Linked DNA regions of Homo sapiens: region 2 is linked to region 1. The links come from fine-mapping of genetic effects on gene expression. A gene starts in region 1. The other region holds a variant in brackets. All regions are shown on one strand. Distances are between the middles of the regions. Region 1 holds the start of RALGAPA1 (Ral GTPase activating protein catalytic subunit alpha 1). Region 2 has its middle 73 kb from the start of LINC00609.

Region 1 (5,385 bases):
GGATCCCTTGAGGCCAGGAGTTAAAGACCAGCCTGGGCAAAATAGTGAGACCTTGTCTCTACTAAATTTTTTTTTTTTTTTTTTTTTTTTTTTTTTGTGAGATGGAGTTTCGCTCTTGTTGCCCAGGCTGGAGTGCAATGGCACGATCTCAGTTCACCGCAACCTCCGCCTCCCAGGTTCAAGTGATTCTCCTGCCTCAGACTCCCGAGTAGCTGGGGTTATGGGCACGCGCCACCACTCCTGGCTAATTTTGTATTTTTAATAGAGAAGGGGTTTCTCCATATTGGTCAGGCTGGTCTTGAAATCCTGGCCTCAGGTAATCCACCTGCCTCGGCCTCCCAAAGTGCTGGGATTACAGGAGTGAGCCACCACGCCTGGCCATCTACTAAATTTTTTTTTAATTAGCTGGGCTTTTTGGCACCTGCCTGTGTTACCAACTGCATGGGAGGCTGAGGTGAGAGGATTGCTTGAGTCCAGGAAGTTAAGGCTAAAGTGAGCTGTGACTGCACCACTGCATTCCAGCCTGGATGACAGAGCAAGACCCAGTCACTAAAAGAAAAAAAATCTAGTTCTCACAAGCAATATATATATATATATATATATATATATATTTTTTTTTTTTTTTTTTTTTTTTTTTTTTTTTGAGACAGAGTCTCACTCTGTCAACCAGGCTGGAGTTCAGTGGTGCAATCTTGGCTTACTGCAACCTCCGCCTCCTGGGTTTAAGCAATTCTCCTGCCTCAGTCTCCTGAGTGGCTGGGATTACAGGCGTGCCCCACCACGCCTGGCTAATTTTTTTGTATTTTTAGTAGAGACGGGGTTTCACCATGTTGGTCAGGCTGGTCTTGAACTCTCCTAACCTTGTGATCCGCCTGCCTCGGCCTCCCAAAGTGCTGGGATTACAGGCATGAGCCACCGTGCCTGGCCCTCACAAGCAATATTTCAAAGGTATATTTCTGGGTTTTATTTCCATGATAATTATGTCTGCTGTGGGGAAGACTTATCTTTCAAAGAATTTTAATATTTAAATCAATGGGAAGAGAAAAACCAGGCAGTGGGATGGGTGTGCCATATGTAAATTACATTATACTAGTTTGTTTTGCAATGGTGTTTTCATTTTTTCTCAGGTATACCAGCCATATAATTATTTTTAACGATATGTTACATTTTTATTCTCTAAAATTATGTCACTCATTTGCCAAACATTTACTGAGTACTTGCGCAAGAGAAAGGAAGGGACAGTGACATTCGTTCTTCTATTCGACACAGATTTATTGAGCCTATCTTGCAAAGAGCACTTTGCAAGAAGACTGGGATACAACTTTAGACAATCTATACAGTCTCTGTCCTCAGGGAGTTTACAGTCTCATGAAAGAGAGAATCTGTAAACAGTTACACAAATTACTGTATTTAAATTCTATGAAGGAAAGGAATGTTATGAGATGTGTCATTATAGATGTAACTTTCAATACTTTTCTCACCTAATTATCACAATCACTGATGTAGTTTACAAATGAGGAAAATCAGGCTGAGACTGAACTACATGCCAAGGGCCCGAGAGCAAGTAAGTCCTTGCAAGTGAAAAACAGAATGTCTAATTTAGGTCTATGTAATTCTAAAGATCATGCTTGAAAACATTGTATTATTGCCTAAATTTCACGAAACTGTGAGGGACAGACCTTATTTTGATTTTATTAATAAGAAAACTGATGCTGAGAGGAACTAGAACTAAAATCTCTTGAACAATCCCCTTATTTTTCTATTATGTTATAAGCTTCCTCAAAACATGTATGGCTTGTAAGTTTGATGATACAAACAAACCCTACATGTAGAAACTGAATAAATTTTTTGTACTTTAAAAAATATAGGATTGTTGTTGAAACAAACTACCATTAAGCAAAGCACTATATTTTAACATAATTTTGGCAAATGTCTTACATCTCTCTTCTTTGCTGATTTTGTTATTTTTCTATGTTAATCACATATTTCATTGGACAAGTCTATTGCTATGGGTGAGAACATAGAAGGAAACAGTTCAAACAAGCAAACTCACTCTTTATCAAATTATTTTGTGGAGGAAATGTTCCTGGCCAGGCGCAGTGGCCTCACGCCTGTAATCCCAGCAGTTTGGTAGGCTGAGGCGGGCGGATCACTTGAGTCTAGGAGTTTTAGACCAGTTTGGGCAAAATGGCGAAACCCCGTCTCTACAAAAAACACAAAAATTAGCTGGATGTGGTGGCGCGCACCTGTGGTCCCAGCTACTCGGTAGGCTGAGGTGGGAGCATCACCTGAGCCTGGGAGTTCGAGGCTTCAGTGAGCTGAGATCACACCACTGCACTTCTGCCTGGGACACAGAGACCCTGTCTGGAAAGAAAAGGAAAAAGGAAAAAAAAAAAAAGGGTTCCAATAAAAATTTCAATTTATGTCATTCAGAATTTCACGGATTTTTTTCAGCTATTGCAGATTCTTCAGATGACTCCATCAATGTAATAAGAACCTTGAATTCTTCTTTGCAGAGGAAAAACTGACAATATATTCATCTTTATGTGGGGTGCAGATGGGGAAAAGATTTTTAAAAGCACAATAGAAAAGGAAAGCAAGATTACTTTTATTTAAAAAACCTAGATACCTCTGCTTAAGCCTTTCTGTTGTCAAGTTGTTTGCAGCAAAAAACAGGGATATTGCAAATAGAAAAAATATGAAAGAAATCACATACATAGTGCAGGAAATATTATTAGTAATAGATTTAGGACAGAATAAATTGCCCAACTGTAACTTCGTTTATCTTTCTGCTAGAGGATCTGGTGGCCACAACAACTTATGCACATTTTCAAAGATAAATCATGGACATATTTAATAAAGATTACTTCTCTTTGCTTATTACTATCATTTGGCTTACAATGGAGCACGCAGTAACTACCTTCCTTGCCTTTCTTGAGATTCTCCTTTGGCTGCTTACACAGGAAACCAAGGCGGGGAGTGCCACGGGTGATCTCATGCTGGCATGACGTCAAGAACTCTTGACGTCAGAAGGCGGTTGCCACGGACACCGTTCGCCACCGACGGCAGAGTCGTGAAACCCCATCACTACCACACTCGTCTCCGTTTCGGCCTCTGCAGGGTGTAAGCTGCTAAAGAAGCTTCAACCTTAAGGGGGCCTCAGGGAGAGAGTTGTGCTCCTGCCGCCGAGAGCTCCACCTTCGTGGCTCTGGGTCCGGGGCCCCGGCCTGTGGCGGCGAGCGGCGGCCGCTGGAGACGAGCGGCGGCGGCAGGCGGCCAGCCCGGGTCTGCCTCGCTCCGTGCAGGGCCGGGAGAGGGATCCGCCATATTGGAGCTGGGGCCGAAGGTGCCTTGGAGCCGCGGCGCGAGGCGGGTGGAGGTGGCGGCCCTGGCCTGGATCGGGAAGGAGTCGGCTCTGCCCTGGCCCGCAAGGCTGGGGAGCTAATGAGCCTCTCTGGCTAGTCTCCTCCCCGTCCACTCCCTCCACTTTCTGCCGCCGGGACCCGGCTGGGAGCCGGCTGTGGCAGTGGCAGTGGCAGTGGCAGCGACAGGATGTTCTCCAAGAAGCCGCACGGGGACGTGAAGAAGTCCACCCAGAAGGTGCTAGACACCAAGAAGGACGCACTGACTCGCCTCAAGCACCTGCGCATCGTCATCGGTGAGGAGCGAGGGGTGGCAGCGCCGAGGCCTGGGTTGCCCGGCCTTCCCTCTCCTGGGAGCCCCTGCGGACTCTCTCTCGGGACCTGGCGCGGTGCAGGAGAGGGCAAATCGTAGCCTCTGCGGAGACGCGGGAGGGTGAATAATTCGGAGAAGCGAAAACTTGGCAGTTGGCAGCACTGATTACTGTTAACACAGTAATCTAATTTTGAGTTAATAGTCTGAACTTATTTTTTAAAATTGGTATTACTCTAAAAACTTAGATCTTTAAGACTTTGTGGGGAGACCTGGCGTTGTGGATAATGGTGTTTATAGGATATGTTTGCCAGATGACTACTGCCAACCCCACCCAAGTAAAAAGAAAAATAAAATCCTCTCTCAGACAATATAAACCTTAATCTTTCAAGTTTCTTGGCAGATGAAGACAAGGAGGTAGCAGTTACACCTCTTTGGGAAGTGGGCGGTTCCCAAAAAGCTGTGGGAAGGAGCCCCGCCCTTTTGTTAATGCACCTTGTTCATCACTAGTCATTTAGAGGGAGAACTATTATAGGTAGTTTAACTCATCCTTTGCTTCTCGAGAATTGTATATAATTCTATTTTTAATTAAAAATATTTTTTTTATCGTCTGCCCTTAAGTTCTGTTTTGCTGGTAGACCAAACAGTGCTCTAAGTTTTGAATATAATGTTAATCGACTCTTTTGAATACTTAGTCATTTGGTAGGCTGATAAAGGCTGTAATAATACTTATGGAACATCTGGTCCAGTAGTTGGATTTTTTAGATGAAGACATTTGAGATGAAAAGGAAAATTATTTCGCCTGTGTTGATACTTAGAGTTAATGGTGGAACTGGCTGAAGAAGATGCATTCATCCAGATGCCTGAATCCTAGTTCAGAGTTTATCTCGAGCTGTCCTCCTGATGCGTATTTGTTTTGGAAAGTGATGTTTATTTAGTGAAAAAAGTAAGTCCCTTATTTGAGGTACATGTTTCTCTAGTCTATTGTTTACTCATACCACCAGGATACCACCAATATTACCCAACATTTCTATGATGCTTTACTGTTTACAGTGATTTCACGTAAATTATGATAATCCTTGCAATAACTCTATAGGTAGATGATATTATTCTCCATTTTTTACCAACAAAAAAGCTGAAGTTTGGGAACATCGAGTAGTCAGCCAGCTACCAGGAGGCTGAGTCAGAATTGGAACCCAGATTTTGTGTCTCTAGTTTGTTTTTTTACTCTTTCTACATTTATGACAGCTAATCTTTGTCACAAGTAAATTGTATTTATTCCAGTGGAGTAGTAAGAAAGCAGTTAATCCAGTTTAGCGCTATAAAAAGCTCAGTTTTCAAGAAAATGTAAAGCTTCTAAATATAGTGGAGATTGTGATCTTTTTGTTTTCATTCTTCTTGAGAGTTAAGCCATTGAAATAAAGATTTAGCCGAGAATAGGACACAGTAAGTTAATGTGTGAATGCAGGCGAGGGATTCACAGGTAATGGCAGTTTGAAATTGAACACTTAATGGAGCTTGACACCTACTTGGGATAAGCTGTAGGTTAGGTAATGACACAGCTATAAAGTTGAGTTCCAATAAAGTATCGAGATTTCCTAAATTAAAGGCCATACTTTATTTATAGACTGGTTAAGGAATTATTTATATATACTTTTTTGGCATAGAGTTTTTTTCCATCTGGCAGACATGGAAAATTAAAAGGTAAATTAA
Region 2 (5,385 bases), 190 kb before region 1:
TGCACCAGTAGCTGTCTTTCATAAAGAAAGACCACTGCTCATAGAGGGTTGGGTTTTCTCTCTCAATCACAGTGTCATGTAATTTCAGACTAATAAACCATGCTCTAGCATTACGTGTATCAGATATTCCTCAGGAAACAAGGATGGTCATATCTTTAAGTGCTTTTTTTTTAAGATTGTTCCGAACTTTCTTACGTGTTCATCAAAAGATGACAGCTTAGTATCTGTTATTAACATAAGAAAACTGATTTGTAGATAGTTTCCTCAGATCCAATCAAAGGAAGCCTCCCTTTCTGTTAATTGGATAATTAATGGCATTTTTAAAACCAGCACTGATCCAAGTACCTTTTATGTTCATTGGCAGATTGATTATCCATGAAGAAGTTCTCTGTTATCTTTATTATCCATTTGGATGGGAAGGAAGGCCTTGGGGAAGGGACAAAAGGATTAGCTTTGTTTACTCCCCACTCTACCCTTTCAACATTCAGCCTCCTTTGTGAGTTGGCTGTGATTTGAGTCTTAGAAAGGATGAATCTTGACAAAAATGTTTAATAGAATTAAAATCTATTTCAGGCATCAAAAGTAGAGTTTTATGTCTGTGCATTCACGGTTTCTTGGGGGAAGGGGCATAAAACTCTTGCCTATATTTATCTGCCAAGCCTTTTTCTATATCCCTGTCTCCCTCCCCGCCACGCACCTCCATCTCTCTCATATTTCTATGACTAAAACACAAAACCATGGGCTGGTTACTGCAACAGTATCATTTATTTGTGTTCTTCAAGCAGCCTGCAACACAGCCAGAAGATAATGGACACCTCATTTATTCAAGCTCTGAATGATCATATTTAATTCCCTGTGACAGCTGTCTTCCCCACATTAGCATTGCAAATATGTTCGGTTTTGTAATGGCCTTCTATTGAACATGATTCAATTATGTGTGGTCCGTATCGAGGCAGGATGCGGCCTTAGTATCTATAGCAATATTTCTGCAAGCTGCTGCTCTTTACACTGCTCACATTTAAGCTGGCTGTTTACCACAATGCTTTCCTTGAACTATGTTGAACTCCATACACTTTCAAATAAAATAAAGAGGAATGAATGTAATTTGAAAAAGCAGTTACTGGGTGTATAGATATTATATACCTCCTCCCCTTTACATATATAATCAACCTGGAAGCACTTGGAAAAAATTGCCAATTGTCCCATTTTACAACCCAGATAATAAAATCATTATGGCCAATTAAATGATTAGACAATGCTAGACACACTGGGGTTCAATGCCTGGTTTTACATATCACTAACAACACACTATCAGGCATTAAGGCCATCAGTCTGAACTCAGAGTCATTTTCTTGTAATAGAGGTGAGAAACCTGCACCTGGAAGAAAAGCAGCTTCTTCATGGACTGAAGGAAGATTCTAAAGTAACAAGATCTTAGCAAGGGATGAAATGCAGCTCTCTGTCCTCAAAAACGTACACCTCACCAATTGGCTCCTGCCTTCCGAAGTTCATCTGCAGATGCAGCCACCACCTGGATTTCCATGGGGTCCTCCAGCCCTGCCAGCTGTGGACCCCGCATGTTATGGAAAGAGGTCGCTGGGTAGGACAGAGGGGCTACTCACCCAGACTCCATAAGACATTATCAGAGACCCTATGTCACAGTGACTCTGAAGCCAGCTGAGCTGCCTGCCTAATGTGACCGTGGTCTCCAAAGGGACAAAAGCTCTCAGAGTTTTTACCTCTGATGTTAGGAAAGAGCAGCCATTCCTCGGGCCTCGAGTTTCCAGGCGGAACAACTTACCTAGATAGGACTCCTGGTTTCCTCATTGCAAGGCGCGAGTGACCGGCTGGTAGGGCTGGAAGCAGGAACTTGGCAGCCTTGACTCAGCTCTTTTCCCCTTTGGCTCTCTCTGCCTGTCGAAAGGGCGCATTCTGGTCTGGTGCCTCGGCCATGTAGAGAGCTTAGTGCGGCAGAGCTGCCAAAGAGGCCAGATATTTGGGAGGTTACATTCAATTCCGGGAAGAGTTAATAACTGTACTTGACTCTAAGTCATGTTCTCCAATACAACCTTTCTCAGTTAAAAAAAATAATAATAATAAGTTGTTATCATCCATCTATCTGATTCCTGGGTCGGTCTGTCAGTTGGTTGGGAGATGAGGGAAAAGAGAGTTACCTATTGGGCCCAGCCCTTACACCTGCCAGCTCAATCCTTTCCCTGCTGTTTGACATTAGCGTAACGCGGGGCAGTGCTCATCAGACTTTAATTGCGCATGCACATCACCTGGCAATCTTGTTAAACTGCAGATTCTGATTCAGTATGTCTGGGATGGGGCCTGCGATGCTACATTTCTAACAGATGCCTAGGTAATGCCGATGCTGCTGGTCCACGGACCATGCTTTGATAGCAAGAATTTAAAATGTGGTCTCCAAAACCGAGAGAATTCACAGCAGACCCGGCTGCAATAAGAAGTGGGGGCAAGGTATTCTGTATCCTCTTCCTTCCCTTAAGGTGGGGATCTGCACATTTTATTGTGGATTATTATCATCTGGAAAGTTCGCAAACTCAGATTACTGAGACTCACTCCCAAGAATTTTTGCTCAGCAGGACTGGGGTCTAGGGATCTGCATTTTTAAGAAGGCTTTTCACGTGTAATATATCTTCTAACAGGTTATTCTCATGCAGATGGTCCTAGAACCACACTCTGACACAGGCTAAGGAGTCAGAAGATTCTTGCCTAGAACTACTCAATGATGCCACCTTGCCCTGTATGGCTTGTTACATGTTGCAAATTTGCCAACCATATATCTGATAAGGGGTTAATATCCAAAGTAATTATACATAATGAATTCAAATAACTCAGTAGCAAGGAAAAAAACACCTTGATCAAAAAATGGGCAAAGGATCTGATCAGATACTTCTCAAAAGAAGACATACAAATGACCAACAGGTCTATGAAAAAATTATCAACATCACTAATCATCAGGGAAATGCAAATCTAAACCACAATGAGATATCAGCTCACACCTGTTAGAATAGCTATTATTCAAAAGATGAAAGATAACAATTGTTAGCAAGGATATGGAGAAAAGGGGGCCCTTGTTCACTGTTGGCGGGAATGAAAATCAGTACAGCCATTATAGAAAACAGTTTGGAGGGTCCTCAAAAAGTTAAAAATAGAACCACCATATGATCCAGCAATCCCACTTCTGGGTATTTATCCAAAGGAAATGAGATCAGTTATGTCAAAGAGATATCTGCACTCCCAGG[T/C]TCACTGCAGCATTATTCACAATAGCCAGGATATGGAATCAATCAATCTAGTCCATCAAAGGATGAATGTATAAAGAAAATGTGGCATTTATGTACATAGGAATACGGTTCAGCCTGAAAAGGAAAAAAAATCTTGCCATTTGCAACATCATAATGAATCTGGAGGACACGATGATAAGTGAAATGAGCTGGACATAGCAAGACAAATACTGCGTGATCTCACTTATATGTGGAATCTAAAAATGTCAATGTCATAGAAGCAGAGAGTAGAATGGTGGTTGCAAAGGGCCGGGATGGTGGGGGTGGGGAAGAGATGTTGGTTAAAGGGTACAAAGTTTTAGTTAAGTCGGATGAATAAGTTTTGGAGATCTCTTGTACAGTATGGTGACTGCAGTTAATAATAATACAAACTTTAAAATTAAGAATGTAGATCTTAAATGTTCTTACCACAAAAATGTAAGTATGTGTTAATTAACTTGATTTAATCATTTCACAACATATATATATACGAAAACATCACATTGTATACAATAAATATATATAATTTCATGTCATTTATACCTTAATAGAGCTGGGGGGAATCTTATTTAAAAAAGAAAATTCCCTATTATATTTAAATCTGCAAACTAGATGTTACTGAAAGACTCCTCATAATACTTTGCCCAAACTGTTGTTTATACTTTCCAATGGCATCAGACAAAACTCTAGCCACAAGATTGCCCTTTCTTTCCTATGAGCTAGGGAAGCTTATTAGAGGGGCAAGGACACTGATATCTTGAAAAAAGGTTGCATTTTAACACACAAAGAATTACAGAGACAGAAGCAACATACAGCAAAAAGTAAGTGAGAATGTGAGCCTCTTTAACCACAGAGCATGAGTAAATAAGTAAATAGTATATAAACATTAAAATTTTACCATCTGGCTGTTCATAGCTCACTACATGCCATATTCACTAAGGGAATTTCTCATCCTAAAACAGCATGTCTATCAGAATAGATGAAATCGCTCTCTCTGGTAACTTGTGGACTTGGGGGATCCTTTGAAGGATGACTCCCTATTCTATCCTGACTCCTATTTCCTGTATTTATTTTCTACAGCCATTTTCTTAGGCATATAAAATAAATCATTCTACTTGGTTCCTCCAGACATCTACTGATAAGTCTACTCTAACTTGTTCAGTTTCTCACAGCTACACTACAATTCCTAGCAGAATCTTTAACTTTTCCAAATCTTCCTTTCTTTTTTCTCTTCTTGTGACTCTCTGGTTGTACTCTAGGTATTCTAATCACACTCTCTCTCGTTAGCTCCAACGATATCCCATGTCTCAAACCATCCTGTATTTTGTGTGTGTGTGTGTGTGTGTGTGTGTGTGTGTGTGTGTGTGTGTGTGTGACAGAGTCTCGCTCTGTCACCCAGGCTGGTGCAATCTCAGCTCACAGCAACCTCTGCCTCCCAGGTTCAAGCGATTCTTCTGCCTCACCCTCCTGAGTAGCTGGAACTGCAGGCAAACGCCACCACACCCAACTAATTTTTGTATTTTTTGTAGAGATGGGGTTTCACCATGTTGGCCAGGCTGGTCTCGAACTCCTGACCTGGAGTGATCTGCCCGCCTCAGCCTCCCAAAGTGCTGGGATTACTGGAGTGAGACACCACACCTGACCCATTTTGTTCTTTCATCTCAGAGTTTCTCGCATCCCAGGATGGCATCATCCCAATGCCTGAAGTAATACATAAACAGTCTCTCCTTTCTCAAAAGGAAAAACACTTTTTTATTTTATTTTATTTATTTATTTTTTTGAGACTGAGTCTCACTCTATCGCTGGAGTGCAGTGGGATGATCTCAGCTCACTGAAACCTCTACCTCCCGGGTTCAAGCAATTCTCCTGCCTTAGACTCCTGTGTAGCTGGGATTACAGGTGCGTACCACCACACCCAGCTAATTTTTGTATTTTTAGTAGAGACAGAGTTTCATCAGGTTGGCCAGGCTGGTCTCAAACTCCTGGCCTCAGGTGATCCACCTGCCTCGGCTTCCCAAAGTGCTGGGATTACAGGCATGAGCCACCACGCCCAGCCAGGAAAAACACTTCTTGAAAGGAAAATAAACATAGTCCCAAG

What was found. PIP is the estimated chance that this variant, and not a neighbour inherited with it, causes the effect.
Region 2: its variant is fine-mapped to the expression of RALGAPA1 in cerebellar hemisphere (GTEx, PIP 0.99).

What each region holds. Positions count from the first base shown.
Region 1 is chr14:35,807,003-35,812,387 of GRCh38, reverse strand. It overlaps RALGAPA1 (Ral GTPase activating protein catalytic subunit alpha 1), which reads left to right and starts at 3,093. Exons shown (of 42, transcript NM_001346249.2): 1 at 3,093-3,658. The coding sequence starts at 3,553. RefSeq lists enhancers at 2,947-3,046, 2,883-3,443 and a silencer at 3,127-3,366.
Region 2 is chr14:35,995,001-36,000,385 of GRCh38, reverse strand. No RefSeq gene overlaps it. Among named protein-coding and RNA genes, the nearest start is that of LINC00609, 73 kb to the left of the region's middle. The variant T/C (reference allele first, on the strand shown) is at 3,270.